Regions from separate parts of the Homo sapiens genome. Here region 1 is linked to region 2. Evidence: fine-mapped expression QTL. Tissue or cell type: ovary. Region 2 holds a variant in brackets; the other region holds the start of a gene. All regions are shown on one strand. Distances are from middle to middle.

Region 1 (5,150 bases), 34 kb before region 2:
CAGTAAAGAAGCCAGCCAAATCCCACCAAATCCAAGATGGCGAGAAAGGTGGGACGTCTGCTCGTTCTCACTGCTCATTATACACTAATTATAATGCATTAGCATCCTAAAAGACACTCCCACCAGTGCTATGACAGTTTACAGATGCCATGGCAATGTGAAGAAGTTACTCTATATAGTCTAAAAAGGGGAGGAACACTCAGATCTAGGAATGGCCTACCCTCTTCCCAGAAAACTCATGAATAACCCACCCCTTGTTTAGCATATAATCAAGAAATAACTATAACAATCCTTAGTCTACCACCTCCAATGGGGGTGTATGCACCTCCAATTCTTTCTTGGCGAGATCCAGGAGCCCTCTCCTGGGGTCCAGATCAGAACACCTTTCCAGAAACACCATCCCATGTTAAATTATGAATTAAGAACACTGAACATGAAGAATGTTTAATTCAAATTATTGAGTAAACACTTACAAAATTAAAATATAACATTTAATAAAAATAGCAAGATTGAGGAACAAGCACTTCACAAATATTGGTTTCCCAGAATGTCTGAGGAGGTGTATAGAAGTTAAGAATATGTCCTCCAGCCAGAGAGATCTGTGTTCAATCACACTATTTAAGTTACTTAGCTTCTCCAAGCCTCAGTTTCTTAACTCAGATGGAAAATGAGGACAATGTAAGCACCTATTTCACTGGATTGTAAGGAAGAATAAACAAGATAATGAATAGTATTTGGCATATAATCTTTCAGAAAAGTAGTAAAATTGTCATTCCTATAAATCTAACTAATGTCTTTAAAATTCATCTCACAAAATCAGTATCTTTTTATTTTGTACTGAGCTACTTATTTTACCCAAATTGGGGGTTTAAAAAGAAACTCATTACTTATTTTCGAAAGGAAAATTTACTGTCAAGTACAGTAATTTTTTTTTTAAAGCAGCGTTTAAAAAAAAAAAAAGACAAAGCACTGGTCCAGATAGTTGGAAATGTCATTTAGATTTAAGTCTACAGCTTCTTAGGAAAGTTAGGTAGAGATGTATCATACTCCAGCATGATTGTGAGCAGACGAGCAGGATGAGCAAAACTTGCACGAGTAAGAGTGGTAAACACCAGAGAAGGCGCTTTCATGGAAGGGCACCCTAGGTAACCAAGCAAGTGGCAACAATAGTACAGGTGAGTCCTTGGATCCCTTCTCTCTCCACCCCCGGCAGTGGTCCGGACAAGTACTAACCTCTCCTCTCTAGAGCCTTGACTTTATACTAGCTCCACAACCATCAAGCCCCACGATCCGCGAAAGGAATGGTGCTACAGGTAAGGCGGGCGGGGTCGGGATGCCGAGACCTCTTGTCAATTCTTCGCTCGCCCCCAAACGAGGATCACGGCTGCGCGGCTCTCACTCTAACTATCAAGACAGATTCTGATACTAAACAAGGCTAAAACTTTTTGTTTTTTCCTTCTTACAGAAGGCACTACCCTGGACGCCGCTTGCAAACGCCTGAAGAGAAGGCAGGGTGTTCCCACTTTTTCAGAATGGGACCAGGCCCTACGGCCCCAATAGCAGAAGCTTCTCTAACCCAGGACTGCTCCCCTCAATTCCTCCCAATATGCTGACCGACAGCTCGACCTCACCTGGGGGCGGTTCCGCCAGGGGATGGCTTAGGAAAACCTCAGGAAGAGCAGCCCAGCGAGTGACGCCACTGAAACCACAGTCATGGTCTACCTCGTTCAGGCCACCAGTTTGCAGGCGCCTGAGCCGCTGCTCCTCCCGCCTCTCGGTCCTTCCCCGCCGCCCCGGTACCGTCGCAGTCTTACGCGTTGCATGCCGGGAGCGCCTTACCTCCTCTTCTCAGGGACTTCAGTTCCCAGCATGCAGAAGCCTCAGGCAGAACTGCACTCTGGGATTTGAAGTCCTCGTTCCACGCCTTCTCATCATCCTGAACACCGAGCTCTGGGACTCCGGCGGAGAATCTAAACGTAAAGCATCACCCACGGTCGTGAACTGTAGGCTCTCCTGGCATCCGGGATCTTATTCTGGCCTTGGCGGAGTTGGGGATGGTGTCGCCTAGCAGCCGCTGCCGCTTTGGCTTGCTCGGGACCATTTGGCTGGACCCAGAGTCCGCGTGGAACCGCGATAGGGATCTGTCAGGGCCCGCGGCCGGGTCCAGCTTGGTGGTTGCGGTAGTGAGAGGCCTCCGCTGGTTGCCAGGCTTGGTCTAGGTGGGTGGATCCTTGTAAGCAGGATTAGCGAGTCACTCCACGCTCAGGTTCTTTAGCCTGAGGGCCCGTGTGCCACAGCATAGCTACCCCGCCCTTCCAGCCTCGGGTCCCTAATACTGCCTTGCTTCGGTTCCAGTTTCCGCCGCACAACTTCACTCATTCCAAATGTTAATTTCTGCGTTTTTTTTCAGCCCCAATTCTGTTTCTCCAAATCAGGGATGATTGTCGGCCTTCCACAGACCCTCGCGCTTGCCAGGATTAGGGTGTTCGCGCGCATTGTGGGTAGGGGTGTGGAGGAAGGGATCCAGAAATCTTAAGTATTAACTTAGATTAGTGTTAGCAAGGAAGCCGTCACATTTTATTTAGCCGGGACACTCTGACAGTTTGTGCCGACTGCTATTTTTGATCAAGGCTATTTTGCCCACTTGTCTATTTTGTGGCCCAATTGTCTGTTTTGCTAACATCAGAAAGTTATAATGAAATAATCTGCAAAAAATGTAAGGTGCTAGAAAACCAATAATACTGTGTACCTTGAAAATGCTAATATACACCTGTTTTGTTACAGAGGTGGAGCACAGTGAAAGAATTCAAGATGCCACCTAATATAAACTGGAAAGAAATAATGAAAGTTGACCCAGATGACCTGCCCCGTCAAGAAGAACTGGCAGATAATTTATTGATTTCCTTATCCAAGGTGCTTAATTGGTCAATAATAATAGATATATACATTAACTTATGATTAATTTATTAATAAAATATGAATTTATTTTTTTCAGGGACAACTATAATTGTCACAATCTGGAAGTGTTCTTATATTTTGCTTGAAGGTTATAAAATATAAAACAGTTGCTTTTCTGTTTACTTAGGTGGAAGTAAATGAGCTAAAAAGTGAAAAGCAAGAAAATGTGATACACCTTTTCAGAATTACTCAGTCACTAATGAAGGTTTGTATGTAGTAGGTTTTAACTATAGGTTTGGCTATTAGTGGAACTATAAAAATCTGTTCTTATATAAGGTAATCTTTGTGAAAATACCTGGTAATATCTACATCACCACTAAAAAATGCAATATATTTAAATGTGAATTAAGTATTTTAGTGTATAAAACATTGCTAGTTTCTACTTAAAGTTTCTAAAAGGGTGTGTAGGGGAAATAGAATGAGTATGTTGAAAAGTAACATAAGGAAATATATCTTGAGGTCCAAATGACAAATGCAGACAATGACTGCTATAGGGATTTGTTAAGAGGGGAAATGATTTAAGAGATGTCAGAAGACTTCACAAAGGATCAATACTGAGGAGTAGTGTTAGATAAGTGGAAGGCAATGCAGTGGTAAGATAGTAAGGGAATTCTAGAGCTGTTGGTTACCATAAATAAATACTGAGAACAGGAAATATGTTTATTCTTTATATTTGAGGAAACAAGGTGCAGCAAGTTTGTAGCAGACTGTAGAGAAAACAAATCTTGGGTAAGTACTTTGAGATAGGTTGTTGAGGGCCTTAAAGGTGTATTTTATGCTATCAGCAATTGAGAAGGCAGTAAAGGTTTTCGAAACACAATTGATAGGTACAAAAATACACCTTAAGAAGGCAAAACTGAGTATATTATGTAGGACAAACTGAAGGAAATTGGAGCTTTGTAGACATCACATTATAGCGGAGTTTAAACCTGAAATTATGGATTAGAATAATAGCAATTGGAACAGAAAAAAAGTAGTGGAAAGACATTACAAAGGGAGATGTTGCATTACTGGATATAAGACTTGAGGACTTGAGGTAAAAAGGAGAATCAAAAATGTTTCATGCTATTAAAAATCTAGAAATTGTAGTCTTAAGTAAGAAAATTGCCTGGCATGGTGGCTCACGTCTGTAATCCCAGCACTTTGGGAGGCCAAGGCAGGAGGATTGCTTGAGCCTGGGAGTTCAAGACTAGCCTGGATAATATAGTGAGTCCTTGCCTGTACGAAAAAATTTGCCGAGCATGATGGCACACCAAGCATGATGGCACGCCAAGCATGATGGCATGCACCTGTAGTCCCAGCTACTCAGGAGACTGAGATGGGAAGATTGCTTGAGCCCAGGAGGCAGGAGGTTGCAGTGAGCTGAGATTGTGCCACTGCACTCCAGCCTGGGTGACAAAGTGAGGCCCTATCTCAAAAGCAAAAAAAACAAAAACAAAAACCAAAAACTATTTATTCAGCAAATATTTACTGAACGTCTCCATGTGCCAGCCATTGCTGGCACTAAGGATCATAACAAATAAAACAGAATTTTTATTTTCAGTGCTTACATTCCAGTATAAAGGCATATTGAAATAACCTTTTTTTAATGTTTAGATGAAAGCTCAAGAAGTGGAGCTGGCTTTGGAAGAAGTAGAAAAAGCTGGAGAAGAACAAGCAAAATTTGGTAAGCACCTTGGAAAAAGTTTATTATGGTATTAAATAATGAATTCCATTTGTTCATTAAACTGTAGAAAATTAAATTATATTCTATAAAATATATATATTCAGTTTATTTTTAATATATAACATTTAATAATAAATATTTCTAGACTCCTATTTTATGGATCTGCCATATAATACTTTTTGTTACCTTATAATCATGATGGACTCTTTTAAAAGAATTAATTTTGTTATTGAAATTTATTTAAAAGTTTGTTTTGTGGTAACTAATCAATTAAAACGTTTTTCTTTTTTTTTAAAAAAATAGAAAATCAATTAAAAACTAAAGTAATGAAACTGGAAAATGAACTGGAGGTATGTCTTTTTGTATTCCCTAGGATGTAATTGTCATTAATTTTATTTTGAATTGTTTTCAAATTTTAAAATTATTGTTGGCTGGAAAAATTATAAGGATGATTGTAATCATGGTTATTTGTTTATTCTGTATATGTTCTACATGCCTATTATGTGCCTTATATAGTACTAAGGAC
Region 2 (5,337 bases):
TTTCATTATTTTATTTGAAATTTGACTATCTATAACATCACATACATTATAAATATAATTACAAATATATGTTCAGAATCAATGAAAATATATTTTTGATTATATGGGCCACTATTTCTCTCTGCTAGGTGATCCATTTGTGAGTATACTTGAGTTATAATTATTAAGTACTCATTTTTATTTTGGAAATTACAGTAATTCATCTTTTTCTCAATATTGGGATTTTTATTATTATTTTATGTTGTCTAAGGACAGCCTTAACTACTTATTAGAATATTGCTTTGTATGTGATATTATTATTTTTAAATGTATAATTTTAACATTATTATTTCTCTTATTTACCTGAGGTATAGGAACACTATCAGCAAATATTGGTAGTATGGCATTGTCGTATTTTTTGAGATAAAATTCATGATTTTTAATCTTTGTATAAGAAATATATCAGAAGTTTGTAGTAGATTAGAGAGTACCAACTGGGAGTCTGAAAAGCTGTCCAAAGTGGCAAAACAGGTACTTAGACTCTCAATCCTAAGGCTGTATAGAGCTATAAACGTGGCAAGACCTTTGGAGTCAGACAGACCCAAACTCAAATGTTGGATCCATGTATATGGAAAGCACCTGACAACAAGCCTAGCATATGTACTTGGTAAAAATGATTGCCAAGTGTAGTGTTAATGAGTTTTTGGATATTGAGTAAGTTATTTAAATTTCAATTTCATCTTTAAAATGAAATAATTGGAAAGGATAATTTGAGTGAGGGTATGAAATTATGTGTTCATAAGAGAGGGTATGTGGCCGAGTGACTAGAGGCGAGTTTATAACTATTCTATCTAATAAAACTTTGTAATCTGGTAATTTGTGTGCTAAAAATAACTTTACCTGTTGTATAGTACTCTTTTTTTATGCCTTAAACTAAAGTGTTCAAAATATCATGGAAAAATGATCTGTGTTGCTTACAGATTTGGTGACTTTTAACTTTCCTATAATGTTGTCAGAATATGAATTTATACTTTCAAATTCAGCATTTATTCTATTGTGTTTTTTTTTGCATTCTTATTTCTAAACCACTTTTCAGGAACTAGAAAATAAAGAAAAAAAGTTAAAGAATTTAGAAGATTCTCTTGAAGATTACAACAGAAAATTTGCTGTAATTCGTCATCAACAAAGTTTGTTGTATAAAGAATACCTAAGGTATAGGTATTAGCAAAACTATAAATATAATTGCAGTATATTCTTGTTAATTGTGAAAGTAACGTAAGAATAATTTATGTTTTGTTCTTCCCTTCTTCTTCTTCCTTTGCAATTGTATTTTTTTTTACTCTGGTAACTACTGTTAGGAACTTATTTATGGAGACAGTGTAGCTTAATGATTACATTAAGCCTGGGATTATCCTGCCTGGGTTTGAGTCATTTAACGTTTGCTTTTTGTAAGAGCTTGAGCAAGTCATCTTACCTATCTGTGTCTCAGTTTCCTTATCTGTAAGTTACTTTGTAAGTAATACCCTTTTCATAGGATTATTGTAAAACGTAAATGAATTATTAGATGAAAATGCTCGGACTAGTGTGTGGCACATATGAACAGTTTGTAAATGTTAGCTGTTGTTAGCATCATTCATCATCATCACAATCATCATTGTTCATATATGTTTATAGGGAACTAACATATTTCTCCTTATTTCTGTCATCTCATCTAAATCAATAGAATGATTTCCTTAATAGGAATTAGAATACCTAATCAAAGGTGATTTAAACACTAAGAATAATTATTATCTGACCTAACCAGAACCACAAAGCTAGTTGTAGGGCAGGTCATATTTGAAGGTTGTTGTTATCGCCTATGATGGTTGTAAAATAGCTGCATGAATTCAAGAAAGATGATGTGCCCATTGAAGAAGAGGAGCATTTTTTTCTACATAGCTTTTATTTTTAAATAAACATTTTTTTCTGGTGATACCTGGCAGACATTGACTCCGATCTCATTTGCTAGAATTGGATCACATGTCCAAGTCTGAACCATTCAGTTGCAAAGAGAATGATACCGCTATACTGGGTTTATGCCAAGAACATTACACATGTTTGTGGAATGCTCATGTGTAGACAACAGTGTCTTACACAACTTCAAAAAAATAATTTATATATAAATATGTTTTAAATTACTTTTTAAATTCACAAGAATTTATGGTATACAACATGGTGTTCTATATATGTATATACTATGCTATACAACATGGTGTTCTATATATGTATATACTATGCTATACAACATGGTGTTCTATATATGTATATACTGTGGAATGGCTAAATCAAGCTACTTAACATATGTATTACCTCGCATACTTTTTTTTTTTTTTCCTTGAGACAGAGTCTTGCTCTGTCACCCAGGCTGGAGTGCAGTGGCGCTATCTTGGCTCACTGCAACCTCTGCCTCCTGGGTCCAAGTTATTTTCTTGCCTCAGCCTCCCAAGTAGCTGAGATTACAGGCATGTGCCACCACGCCTGGCTAATTTTTGTATTTTTGGTAAAGACGGAGTTTTGCCATATTGTCCACGCTAGTCTCAAAA[T/C]TCCTAGCCTCAAGCAATCTGCCCACCTTGGCCTCCCAAAGTGCTGGGATTACAGCATACTTCTTCTTATTTTTTTTTTTTTTTGCACTAAGAACACTTAAAATTTACTCTCTTAGCAATTTTAAAGTATATAATATACTGTTATTAACTTTGGTCACTATTTTAATTAGACTTAAGATGTGTTTGTATTCAAATTATTTTGTAAGCATTTAACACCCAAATTTGAGAGTGGGGTCAGAATGTTGGAATTTGATTTCTAGAATTAGTATAGGGTATTATTTTCCTACTTTTTTTCTGTGTTCAATAAAATGTTTATAAGATTCAGCTTCAATTATATTATAACCCATTTAGTGGTGAATCAGGGAAGAATGAAAATAATTTGATAACTTTGTTGCCTTGCATTTATTTAAAAAATTTTTAATTCTAGGCTAAACCCTTTTTAAATGAAAGTTTAACTTCTTGTGTTTTCAGATACTGAATAGCTATGATACCTCTTGTGTTGAGAAAACTTTAAATTTGCATAATCTGAAGTTATCTTTTCTTATAAACATTTTATTAGGTTTACAGTATTGTCTTTTTGTTTTGTTTTGTTTTTAGTGAAAAGGAGACCTGGAAAACAGAATCTAAAACAATAAAAGAGGAAAAGAGAAAACTTGAGGATCAAGTCCAACAAGATGCTATAAAAGTAAAAGAATATAATGTAAGTAAAACATTTTTAACATTAGTATGCAATATTGTACAAAGTAGGATAGCTAGATTCAACAAGTAATATGGATGTGTCTTTGTGCAGAATTTGCTCAATGCTCTTCAGATGGATTCGGATGAAATGAAAAAAATACTTGCAGAAAATAGTAGGAAAATTACTGTTTTGCAAGTGAATGAAAAATCACTTATAAGGCAATATACAACCTTAGTAGAATTGGAGCGACAACTTAGAAAAGAAAATGAGAAGCAAAAGAATGAATTGTTGTCAATGGAGGCTGAAGTTTGTGAAAAAATTGGGTGTTTGCAAAGATTTAAGGTACATCTGATTCTTATTTTGCTTTTTCTGACTATGAAAAATTTCAAATATGCAGAAGATAGGATGGTATCAATAATGCTCATCACCTGAATTAATAGTTAACATTTATTAACATTTTGTCATAATTGCTTCTTCTGATTTTTGTGGGATGTTTGAATTGCAGACATTCCTCCCCTAAATATTTAATGTACCCTTTTGAAAAAGGCTTTTTTCTTTAACTAACCATAGTAACTTTATTATACCTAACAAAATGACAGTAATTTTCTAATATCGCCTAATACCCTGATTATAGTCACATTTTTTACATTTTTTGATCAAAGAATAAGCATTTGGATGTTACATCTCATAAATCTTTTTAATATAGAATCCCCTTGGTTTTCTTTTTCTCCAAAAAATGTTTGAAGATGTATCTAACTTTTGTGTGTGTGTCATTTTACTTGTTCCTGTGTCCCTTGTATTACTAAAAGTTAGGTCAGAACCCTAAGTTACATTCAGGTTTAAACATTTTTGGCAAGAATACTTCATAAGTAGTGTTCTATACTTTATATTGCATCACTTCAAGAGTATCTGGTTGTTCCATGTTTTGTAATTGATTACTCTGTTAAGGAAAAGACAAGCAGACCAAGTATGGTGGCTCATGCCTATAATTCCAACATTTTGGAAGGCCCAGGCAGGAAAATTTCCTGAGCCCAGACCAGCCTAGGCAATATAGTGAGACTCCGTCTCTACAAAAAATGTTTTTTTTTTTGTTTGTTTGTTTTTAATTAGCTTGGTGTAGTGGCACATGCTTGTAATCCCAGCTACCTGGGACATTGAGGTGGGAGGATCGCTTGAGCCCAGGAAGTTGGGGGCTGCAGTGAGCTGTGATCATGTGCCACTGATCTCCAGCCTATGTGCCTGTATAACAGAGCGAGTCTCTCTCTTAAAAGAAAAAAAGAAGAAGAAGAAGAAGAAAAGATAACCATATACCTCCATTATTAAGCAATTTAGCTAACTGGTGATATTTTGGTACCATACAAATAACAAATTATTTGTCAGTCCTAATGATTTTAGCATCTGCTGATGATTGTTGCCTAACCCAATTATTAAAAGTTGCAAACATCATAATTTTCTAGTTATATTATGCACTTACATTTATTAACAGACATGCTTTTGTAAAATAAATAGCGTTTCCTCATTAGCCCAGGCTATTTGTTTATCTTGAAGTTTAGCTCCTACTACAAAGGCAAGATAAATGCTTTTCTCTTTAATTACCAGTTTTCAGAATACACACTTGGTGTACTCTGCACTACCTGCTTTTTTTGTCCCCTCCGCTTTCTCTTTTTTAAGTATCAGATTAGACTCACAGATTTTTAAATATTCCATGTGTTTTAGTTGGAGTCATATTCTTTTGTCTCAACTTTAGCCAAAGAGAGTCCTTTAAAGTTGACTCTTATATTGTCTTGACAAAAATTCATTAGTCTTTTGAACGAAGCCTCAAAGCTTGACTTGTTTTCTAGCATAAGATGTCTTAGACTTACCTACATACTTCATGCCCATACTTGGAATAAACCATTTCTTTAAAGAGCCCAGGTTCCTTTTAGTGGGGAAGGCATTTAGATACCAAAAACTGGCCACTGGGCATCATTGCTCTCAGAGTATCATTGCCACTAGTCTCTCAGTAGACAAGTTAGAAAAATATGTATATATTTAAACCATGAGTTCATATTGTTATTTCCAGTTTAATTATAACATTATGGGGTAAGTAAATAGTAT

What was found. PIP is the estimated chance that this variant, and not a neighbour inherited with it, causes the effect.
Region 1: it holds the start of CEP290, and the variant in region 2 is fine-mapped to the expression of CEP290 in ovary (GTEx, PIP above 0.99). The same link has a PIP of 0.9 or more in ileum.

Annotation. Positions count from the first base shown.
Region 1 is chr12:88,138,969-88,144,118 of GRCh38, reverse strand. CEP290 (centrosomal protein 290) reads left to right here and starts at 2,031. Exons shown (of 54, transcript NM_025114.4): 1 at 2,031-2,219; 2 at 2,785-2,913; 3 at 3,086-3,163; 4 at 4,555-4,624; 5 at 4,928-4,974. The coding sequence starts at 2,812. It overlaps TMTC3 (transmembrane O-mannosyltransferase targeting cadherins 3), which reads right to left and starts at 1,812. Exons shown (of 14, transcript NM_181783.4): 1 at 1,632-1,812. RefSeq lists enhancers at 1,442-1,945, 1,752-2,191.
Region 2 is chr12:88,104,920-88,110,256 of GRCh38, reverse strand. CEP290 (centrosomal protein 290) reads left to right here. Exons shown (of 54, transcript NM_025114.4): 23 at 1,076-1,191; 24 at 3,159-3,261; 25 at 3,352-3,582. Among named protein-coding and RNA genes, the nearest start is that of CEP290, 34 kb to the left of the region's middle. The variant T/C (reference allele first, on the strand shown) is at 2,562.